2 separate regions of the Homo sapiens genome follow, and region 2 is linked to region 1. Evidence: fine-mapped expression QTL. A gene starts in region 1. The other region holds a variant in brackets. All regions are shown on one strand. Distances are between the middles of the regions.

Region 1 (5,372 bases):
CTTCCCCATGCCAGGCAGGCCCCCGCGGCCTGGGCCTCTCCTTGCTTCCTGGGGGAGCTGGACAGACACAGGCTTTCCCCTCAGGGAATCTGGAATACTGATTGCTTTTGTAGTTGAGCTTGGCCCCTCCTTGGTGTAGGAAGTTACCAGATCCATTTGTGCTCAGGGCTTTTCTTACTCTAGGATAAGTAAAAGTGGTTGTTCTGAGTCACGTGAGAAGAACTGGGGGCTTTGAGTAACCAGAGGGCTCCCCAGTGGGCCTTTAGGCATCTTCTCTACTTTGTGGGCACCTGGGTCAGGGTGCGGTGTAATAAGAAATGTATTCGGTCTTTGTCCCGGGTCCCTGTCATAGAGCTCCTAAAACCCTTGAAATTTCCTGAGTGAAAGGAATGTCTTTTGTTATTCATAATAAGCACCTTTGATAACACCTGAGTTTATGCTAATGAAGTTACTGGGGAAGTGGTGGGGTGGTGGAGGGGCTAGACAGCCTCAGGATGGAGCCAGTCTCCAGAAAGACCAAATGCTTAGAGGATTAGAACATTTGGCCTCACCCTCCAACCTCCAAGAAAGGTGTGGGAGGGTGGAGATCAAGCTACATAAAAACTCTTGAATAAGATTTGATAGGTTTCTGGGTGGCTGAACATGTGGCGGTGCTGGTGGGTGACCCCCCAATACGTCACCCTATCCATCTCTGCATCTGGTTGCTCATCTGCACCCTTTGTGATAAATCAGTAAAGGTAAGTGTTTCCCCGGGTTCTGTGAGCCATCCTAGCAAATTAATAGAACCCAAGGAGGCGGTCATGGGAACCCTGGTTTGTAACCAATTGTTCAGAAGTATAGGTGACGATCTACTTGTGACTGGCATCTGAAGTGGGGGCAGTCTTGTGGGACTGAGCCCTCAGAATGTGGGATCTGCTGCTATCTCAGGATAGATAGCATCAGAGTTTAAATGAACTGTAGGAGACCCAGTTGGTGTCTGCTGGAGAAATGTGACCAGATATGGGGGGCATATCTGCCCCCCTCCACGCCCACCCCATATCTGGTCACAGAAGTGTTCTGCTTTGAGTGTGAGAGCAGAAGGAAAAAACTTTTTTTCCTTTACAGGGAGATTTGGGGAGTGTTAAGGAAAAGGAGAGTGGGGGTAAAAAAACAGAGGTAGTATTTGCCTGCATGCTTTCTGGCTCCAGTGTTAGGTTCCAGGCCAAGGAGATGATGAGGGGCCGGGGAGAGAGATCTGATTTTTAGGTTCTGGTCAGAGAAGCAGAGACTCAATCCTGCAAGCCCAGCTTACCTTAAATAGTTATAGGAAAGGAGAGAAAATGGTGCGAAGGGAATTTCCTGCCAGTAGCCTCTTTGGGAAGTGAATCCTATGTGCATGAAAACTGATGTGGCTTTTGAGAGTGCCAGCACATTGTAGAAATAACAGAACAGGAGTTGTTATTCTCTGACCTGAACCTGCGCTTGGCCCCTTGCCCACATAGGAGGCTGCAGTATCTCCCCTGATGCCTGGAACAGTCTGTTCCTGCCCCAGTCTTCCTTGCGTGATGTTGGACATGCCTTCTGTATTGTGCAAACCCAGGCCGCCCACTCTGCCTCTCTTCATTCTCTGGTGGTGCAATGGCTCCTGGAGATGGGAGAAAGGAGAGTGAGCACACTCCTTGCTTCCTTCACCTGCAGAGACAGCCTTGCCTTTAGTAAACCAACATGTATGGCTCATCTGTGATGGTGGCCTATAAATTAGAGAAAAACACAAGACATTGCTATGTTTGATTAGTAACATTGGATGTTTCAGTCGCCCAAGAATTTAAATGCAGCTGGGCCCTTCTCCACCTTGCCTGTCCATCCATCCAGCAGAAATTTTATGATCTCAAGAAATTCATAGCGTGGTGGGGGAAACAGACACATAGACAGAATTTTTTTTTTTTTTTTGAGACGGAGTCTCGCTCTGTCGCCCAGGCTGGAGTGCAGTGGCGTGGTCTCAGATCACTGCAAGCTCTGCCTCCCAGGTTCACGCCATTCTCCTGCCTCAGCCTCCCAAGTAGCTGGGACTACAGGTGCCCACCATCACACCTGGCTAATTTTTTGTGCTTTTAGTAGAGATGGGGTTTCACCATGTTAGCCAGGATGGTCTCGATCTCCTGACCTCGTGATCCGCCCGCCTCGGCCTCCCAATGTGCTGGGATTACAGGCGTGAGCCACCGCGCCCGGCTACATAGAAAGAATTTTAAGATGGGATGACATGTTTCAGTTGAAGGATGGTCAGATCCCCCTGGGAACATCAGTGATGGAATGACCTGGAGGTTGTGGGACGGCATCGCAAAGGAGTGAGGAGGGAGCAGGGTCTGGAAGAAGGAGTCAGAATGGTGGCTGCAGAGGAGGGCAGGAGAGATGACAGTGCTTGAAACAGGCCGGTGGTCTCTGCTTCTTCACGCTCCCAGCAGCGTCTCAGGCATATTGACCAGAAGCTGCATGGACAAACTCAGCTATAAGTTTGCAAAATAAGCAGCTTACTTGGAATGGACTAAGTAGTTTACACTGACTTGAAGACCCTTGCATGCAGACATGTGCCTTAAGGATGAGATTTGGGTGGGAAGCAGTTCGAAGGCACATTGTATGGGGACAGGGTGATTCTGGAGGCTGAGGACTGGGATTTGAATCAAATGTTTGGATTTGGCCAAATCTCTTAATGTCCTGAACCCTCTGTGTTTTCATTTCTAAAATAGAGGTGACCATTTCTGCCCTTCCTGCCCCTCAGGAGCCTGAGAAAATCATGAGAGATGATCTAAGTTCCATCCATATGTTAGTTGCTATAAGGGCTCATCATTCATTCATATGTTCCAAGAAACTCTGGTTCAGGTCCTGCAGTCCTCAAAGGAGCCTCATGTCCCCTGTCCCCTGGGATCTACTCTTGGGGGATAGGGAGTGTCAGTGAGGCCTAGGGACAGCTTATGCACTTGGAGGGAGAGGTGCACCATCATCTCATCCTCCCTGCAACTAAGTTTTTCCTGGGGAAAAAGCCTGCAGACCAGGAAGTGGGAGGTGTCTGGTGGGACACTGCCCTCAAAAGGAGCCTTTCTGAGTGCTGGGGCTTCATCTGCCAGGGCTGCACCTCAGCAGGCAGTGGGCTCCCAGAGCTGGCTGCAGTAACCCGCAGGCTGTGCCGGCAGGATGTGGTCTTTGGTTTCTGTTTCTGTTTTAGTTCTGACTTGTGCCGTGGATGTGGCTGAGGGCCTAGGGTGGGGAGAAGTCTCCACAGGTGGGATTGAACTCCCCAGGCACATGGTCCTTGTGGTGCTGGTGGAGAGAGAGTCCCAGAGGGTTCGGACATGCTCCGTTAAAACCTTTTCCTCAAGGTGATAGGTACGTGTCAAGGTGACCCCTGTCCGCCATCCGGCAGGCTGGAAGAAGCCGGTAAGATGGACAGATCAGGGAGGGTTGGAGGGTCCCGTTTGTGAAGGAGCTGGGGAGGGGGAGGCAAGGCTGAGCACAGCAGCCCACTGTGATGCTCTCAGTGCAGAGGCCCCGGGGGGAGACCCAGGGGGGCACCCCCCAAAACCACACCATACAGTGAGTTTCAGTTCCCCCACTCCTGCCCTTTCACTTCTCCTCGGCTGCCTGGCTGCCTCACAGGTTGTCAGCTTGAGCAAGGGCCCAAGCGGCCTCTACTCAGAGACCCTGGTGGTCAGAGGGGAGTGGGGAAGGTGGACATGGGCATCAGCACAGACCAGCACCTCTGGTCCATCCTGCCTGGTCATCCACAGGGGAGTGCCAGCTCCCACCCCCAGCCACATACTGTTCTCAGCTTCTGAGTGGCTGGGCTGTCCCAGAGGGCCATGCTGGGCCTGAGTGCTGTCCTTGGGCATATGCAGATGGTGTTGTATCCAGGGGGTTTTCAGGGAAGCTTTAGCACTTTCATATTAAAACAAAAAATGTTGGAATCTCCATTAAATAGTCAAGTCTTAGGGATAGTAGTAAAAACATGGCTGTACATGGCTGGCCAGGCACAGTGGCTCACGCCTATAATCCTAGCACTTTGGGAGGCTGAGGTGGGAGGGTTGGCCAAGAGCTTGAGACCAGCCTGGTCAACATAGCAAGACCCGTCTCTACTTGATTTTTTTTTTTAAAGTACATGGCAAAGGGCATTATAAAGTAAGATTTGTATTAGCTTGTAGCTGGTTACTGATGTTCATAGGAAGGGCCTCAACCATAATAATGGTGAAATAATAAAATGAGATGAATAAATATTAGAGAGGTAGAATAGTACGTAGAAAGGTTTAGCACACATTTTGTTTTTCTGCACGAGTGGTTGTTCTCTGCTTTCAAAGTGCTGAAACGAATGTCCTACATTGTCTGCCTTCCATGAGGTTCTGACCGCCCTTGAGAACAGATGTACCCACTACAGGGTGAAGGTGAGAATGTAATTTGAAGCTGAATGAGAATGGAGCTGGATTCTAAAATTATATCCCCTCTCAGATTCACAAGTGTTCACACATTTAGGCAAGAAGCCCTAAGTCCTAACCCTGGACATGTGGATTGTCCAGGACCATCCCAGACTTTTGTGGCTGGATTAATCAGACCTGAGCAAACTGGATGCAAAGAGGAGGGGGTAGGTTCCGGGAAGGGGCCCTGGTGGCCAGGGTGGGATGAGTGTCTGGTGCTGAGCCCAGAGCCCAGGCCCTTGCAATGTTTTTCTTGGATCTGCTGGGGGCAGTTTAAGCTAATAAAAGCCTCCTCTTTTATTCCCAGGGACACATGGAAGCTGCCAGCCCCCCAGCCAAGGATCAGCTGAGCCCTAGGGCTGATGCTTGCCTACGTTGCTGAGAATGGCACTGAGGCCCAGCCAACAAAGGTTAACCCAGGACACTCCTGGACAGTGATCCTGATGTCTGTTGTGAGCTGCACACTCAAGGGTGTGATAAGTGAGTATGTTACAAGCACCCAGGGGATCACCAGCCCAGCGATCCTGCCTGCTCGGCACCTCATCAGCATGGGCACGAGTCTGGAGGTTCTAGTTCTGAGTCTGTTCCCCATCCAAGGTCCTGTCACAGGGCAATGGGAGGGGAATGTCAAGCAATATTGGGCCATCACATGCGGGAGCCGTCTTATGGCCACATGGCCTCTAAAATCCAGGCCAGACCCAGTGTATTAGTTTGTTTTCGTGCTGCTGATAAAGACATACGTAAGAGTGGAAAATGTATACAGAAAAAGAGGGTTAATTCCACGTGTCTGGGGAAGCCTCACAATCATGGTGGAAGGCAAGGGGAAGCAAGTCACATATTACAAGGTTGGTAGCAAGCAGAAAGAGAGCTTGTGCAGGGAAACTCTCCCTTATAAAACCATCAGATCAGCCGGGCACTGTGGCTCACGCCTGT
Region 2 (5,372 bases), 20 kb before region 1:
TGTGTTGGGGAAATTTTCCTTTCCTGGGATTTAAGAGCATTTAAAATCAAGTACCCGAGTAGATCCATAGGTTATACTTTTCTGCTATAAGATAAAGATGCACTCAGAATTTACGTACCAGAATTTACATCAGTACCAGGGTGTTTGGTTCAAGACGTATATTTGCCTCAGACTTTGAGCTGTGGGATGCCCCATGCTGCTGTGATTCAAGGAAAAGGCAGTGGTTTTCACCCCGACACACACATCCACAGATAGAACTGAGGCTAAGTCAACCATCACATTTCCAAGATGGAAAAGAGGGTTTGCTCCTTTCCCTGTTTTCCCATTCATCAGGCTGCATTTATACCCAGTGTGGCCTTCGGCTCTCCTCCCCTGTGAGGCTATACTTCATGCTCATTTTAACATCAGTTCCCCTATGTATAAATGTAGTGGAGCGGAGGTCACAGAGTGATGCTGGCCCCCTGCTCCTTCAAAGGATGGTTCTGAAAGGCGACTTTCCACCCTCCTCTGATTTTGGTGCTTCCACTTACCTTTGGATCACAATCCAGTCTGGCAATTTGAGGAACAACCAAAGTCATTGACAATTCATGTTTTTGAACATCCAGCTTTTCACCATCCTTTACTCTGCTGGCTTCCCAGTAGGGAGTTTAATATTTTTTTCGGGATTCTCGGCTCCCAGTGTGGCTGGTATTATAGAAGAGACAGCATCTTTGAAATGAGGGCAAACCATCTACACGGACAGGTCTCGGGTCCTCAGATTGCTCCTTCCGGCTGCTCCATCTTCTAGAAGCATGACAGTTTTTTTTGTTTTTTTGTTTTTTTAAATAAGACTTCAGCTGTCAATTAATGTAGGGAGAGCTAATAAATATGAAAAGATGAGGGGAGAGATCACTTTCTGCCATTCCTTTGCTTTCCAAAAGCCCCTCATTCAGAACATACTGGATTATCCACTTCTGACTGCTTTTGCAGTTAGACTTGAATGACGAATGCCATCTAGCTGGCCCATTCATTCATTGTTTCCTTTCAGTTATTAAGAGGCACCCCTGTCACATGAGCTTCTGGAATGATCCGTTTCCATTGGAAAGGTCACTCACCCTGAGTTTTAGTAAGGCCTTGACATCAGCCCTGAGGAGCTAGGGATGCCAGCCAAGGAGATTGAAGGGCCACAAAGAGAGGATTCTTTTCTAGACTTCTGAGGGGTGATTCATGCTTCAAGATAAAATGTGCTTCCTGGGGCTCCATGGTTTCATTGCTTGCACAGTCAGTGGAGGGACAGGCCCTGGTGCAGCGAGAAGCCCACCTTGCTGACAATAACTGCCATTCTTCAGAGCACCGACAGGGACTTGTTTTTAGCCCACTGACAACCCCCATCTCCTTTTTCATTGCTGTCCTTGGCCAAACCCCATTTTAGTCCCTAAGTCCTTAGTATCTCTCTTCCCCTTGTTCCCAATCAAAAAGGCCTGTTCAAAGCCAGGAATAAGGCAGCCAGAGCATTGGTCTTACTTTCATCTACTTTCTTAAAACACACATGGACAAGAAATATCATTACCACTGGGCAACACAAGCAGCGGTTCCAGATTTTTGTCTTGTTTTCTTTTTCTTTTTCTTTTAGTTTGGCATAAGCAATGAGATGACCTTCTTATACTGACCTATAGATGCTATAAAGCTTTCATATAGCCTGCACAGTTTCTAACACATGGTGAGTGCTTATTAAATCACCAGCTGTGGTACTTGGATGTGATCAGATACCCCGATTTCTAGGTCATTGGGCAATGATTCGTCTGTGTGTGAGCTGATGGTTGGCAAAGGCTTCAGGAATCAGGAAATCTGGGATCCCTCCCTGACTCACTCACTTGTGTGACCTTGGACAGCCCATTTCAGCCCTCTGAGACTTAATTCCACAAATAGAGCTTCAGCTGGCTTCAGTGATCATGGCAATAATAATGACAATCACCATTTATTAGGCTAAGCATTTACATATGTTCTTTTCTCATATCAATGAGATAGCTACTATTAATTATCCCCATCTCACAGCTGGAAACACTGAGGCTCTGCAAGATAAAGTGATCACCCATATCATACAGCTAGTAAGTGTCTAAACTGGGATTTGAATTGAGATCTATCTGATTCTTTTTTTTTTTAATAAAAAAATTTTTTTAGAGACGGGTTCTCTCTCTGTTGCTCAGGCTTTAGTGCAGTGGCACAATCATAGCTCACTGCAGCCTTGAACTCCTGGGTTCAAGTGATCCTCCTGCCTCAGCCTCCCTAGGACTACAGGCATGTGCCACCATACCTAGCTACTTTTAAAATTGTTTATATGGAGACAGAGTCTTTATAACTCGCTATGTTGCACAGGCTGGTCTCAAACTCCTGGCCTCAAGCAATCCTCCTGCCTCAGCCTCCCAAAGTGCTGGGATTACAGGGATAAGCCACATCTCCCAGCCAGTCTGAATCTATTGTGTTTTATAAGCTTGGATCAGATAATAGACCAAATGTTGGGGAGAGGGTAAAAGTGGAGGCAGTATAGGTTAACACATAAAAAGGAGAATTGACCAGGTGCGGTGGCTCATGCCTGTAATCCCAGCACTTTAGGAGGCCGAGGTGGGTGGATCACCTGAGGTCAGGAGTTCAAGACCAGCCTGAGCAACATGGTGAAACCCCATCTCTACTAAAAACACAAAAATTAGCTGTGCATGGCGGCTCGTGCCTGTAGTCCCAGCTACTTGGGAGGCTGAGGCAGGAGAATCGCTTGAACCTGGGAGGTGGAGGTTGCAGTGAGCAGAGATCATGCCATTGCACTCCAGCTTGGACAACAAGAGTGAAACTCCGTCTCAAAAAAAAAAAGAGAGAGTTGATGTGGATTAAACACAACTAGTTAAAAGGAGACAGAAGTACAGATTCTTGTTTGAAAAACATCATCTCAATGAATGTTCAGTAAGGAGAGGTCTGTACCCTGCAGTAGGGAAGTAGACCAGATGGCCTGGGAGTTACTGTAAAGGGAACACGCTTTCTGCTTGGCATAGGAATACATCTCATAAACCCCATTTCATTTTGAAACCAAAA[T/G]TTTCCTCTTGCTTAACGGTCTGTTTGGGCAACATTTTTATTTCTGTTGTCCTACTGCCACTAGTCATAGAAGCTTATCTTTGCAGATTCTTGACCCCAATCCTCATCCTCCAACCTAGTTTCTGGGCCTTTCCCTGCCCATCATTATAATTCAGCTGTGGAGACCTGATTATGACTCTGGGGTCCCAGCTACACTGAGCAAAGTACAGCAAACATGAGATTATTCTGTTCTTCTGAGAAAATATTTATAGCCACTGATTTCTCCATTCAAAGGTGACCAGCTAGTAGATTGGGATCCATTCTTGTTTGTTCCAAGCAAGTTAATTGTCTTCTGTTTTTTTTTTTTTTTTTTGAGACAAGGTTTTGCTCTGTCACCCAGGCTGGAGTGCAGTGGCACAATCCCAGCTCAATGAAGCCTCTATCCCTCTATCTCCTGGGCTCAAGGGATCCTCTAGCCTCAGCCTTCCAAGTAGCTGGGACTACAGGTGCAGAACTACACCTGGCCTCTTCCACCATTTTGAAGTATTCATGGAAGAGGAATGAGGGTTAAGGTGGTGGTCCAAGGAAGGTGAGCTGACCCCTCTTGGAGAGCTAGCGTGAGGCTGTATGATGGAACAGTGTGCAAGGGGTCAGGAGACTTGGGTTCTCCTCACAGCTCAGTGACTCTGGGCGTGTGATGCAAGTTTTTTGGCTTTTAGTTTTCTTATCATTTGGACAAGATATTCTCTAACCTCTCTTCAGGTAATAATGCTAGATGATCCAGCCTTTCCTGAGAAAGGCTGAGGTTCCAGCCTTTTTCAGGAAATAACTCAGCTGGTCTGGAACTGTCAGAAGTCAGAGTTGGGAGGGAAGAGATGGTGTTGAAGGAGAAAGAAGTCAAACTGGAAGCTAAGGAACAAAGTCAGAGCTGGAGGAAGTCCCTTCTCAAGAAGGGGGACTAGGACCAGTCATTGCTCTTTTTTTTTTTTTTGAGATGGAGTTTAGCTCTTGCTGCCCAGGCTGGAGTGCAATGTGACTTCGGCTCACAGCAAACTCCACCTCCCGGGTTCAAGCAATTCTCCTGCCTCAGCCTCCCGAGTAGCTGGGATTAGAGGCATGCGCCCCCACGTCCGGCTAATTTTGTATTTTTAGTAGAGACAGGGTTTCTCCATGTTGGTCAGGCTGGTCTGGAACTCCCAACCTCAGGTGAACTGCCGGCCTCAGCCTCCCAAAGTGCTGGGACTACAGGCGTGAGCCAACATGCCCAGCCCAGTCATTGCTCTTTTAACCGCTTCAGTGGGGCAGCTGAGAGGTGGTGTCTGTACACCCTTATACTCACCATTCCTATGTCATGGGGAGCAACCTTTATGTCTTGTCTTAAAACTTAAACTGAGCCAGGCAGGGTGGCTCACACCTGTAATCCTAGCACTTTGGGAGATGGAAACAGGAGAATCACTTGCCAGTTCAAGACTAGCCTAGGCAACACAGTGAGACCTTGTCTTTACACAAAATTAGTTGGACATGGTGGCGCATGTCTGTACTCCCAGTTCCTTGGGAGGCTGAGGTGGGAGGATCACTTAAGCCTGGGAGGTCGAGGCTGCAATGAGCTGTGACCACACCACTGCACTCCAGCTTGGACAAAAGACCGAGACCCTGGGGACTCCAGGGTCTGCTTCAGTCCAGGATTCTTCCCCCTATCCCTGCTCCTCTGCCACTTGGGTCTCCAGAACTTGAGGTCTCTGGTTGATGTTTTTTTGTTTTTGTTTTTGTTTATTTTAGAGACAGGATGTTGTTCTGTCACCCAGGCTGGAGTGCAGTGGCATAATCATAGCTCACTGTAGCCTTGAACTCCTGGGTTCAAGCAATCCTCCCACTTCAGCCTCCCAAGTAGCTAGGACTGTAGTTGCACCACCTATATTAGCACCTGGCTAATTTAGCTGGTGCTTTCTGGGCAACTCAGTGTTAGCGAGAGTATAACCCCCTCTGTTGCCCTAACTACCTGAAAGGGCAAGGCTAAACCATATACTCAGCCCAGGAACTCAGGGACCACGTCTTCTTTGTTCATGGAATTGGGCTATGGCTAGGCTATCTTCAGTTCCCTTTGAACAAGGCTTTTTCTTTTTCTTTCTTTCCTTTTTTGTTTTTAGATGGAATCTGGCCCTGTCGCCAGGCTGGAATGCAGTGGCACGATCTCAGCTCACTGCAACCTTTGCCTCCTGTGTTCAAGCCATTCTCCTGCCTCAGCCTCCTGAGTAGCTGGGACTACAGGTGCATGCCACCACCCCCAGCTAAGTTTTGTATTTTTAGTAGAGATGGAGTTTCACCACGTT

Evidence for each region. PIP is the estimated chance that this variant, and not a neighbour inherited with it, causes the effect.
Region 2: its variant is fine-mapped to the expression of TMEM229B in whole blood (TOPMed, PIP above 0.99). The same link has a PIP of 0.9 or more in monocytes.

The regions. Positions count from the first base shown.
Region 1 is chr14:67,486,547-67,491,918 of GRCh38, reverse strand. TMEM229B (transmembrane protein 229B) reads left to right here and starts at 3,198. Exons shown (of 3, transcript NM_001348543.2): 1 at 3,198-3,411; 2 at 4,747-4,919. It also overlaps a transcript of GPHN not described here. RefSeq lists enhancers at 1-517, 3,067-3,486, 3,124-3,623, 3,787-3,856.
Region 2 is chr14:67,506,797-67,512,168 of GRCh38, reverse strand. It overlaps a transcript of GPHN not described here and a transcript of TMEM229B not described here. Among named protein-coding and RNA genes, the nearest start is that of TMEM229B, 21 kb to the right of the region's middle. The variant T/G (reference allele first, on the strand shown) is at 3,064.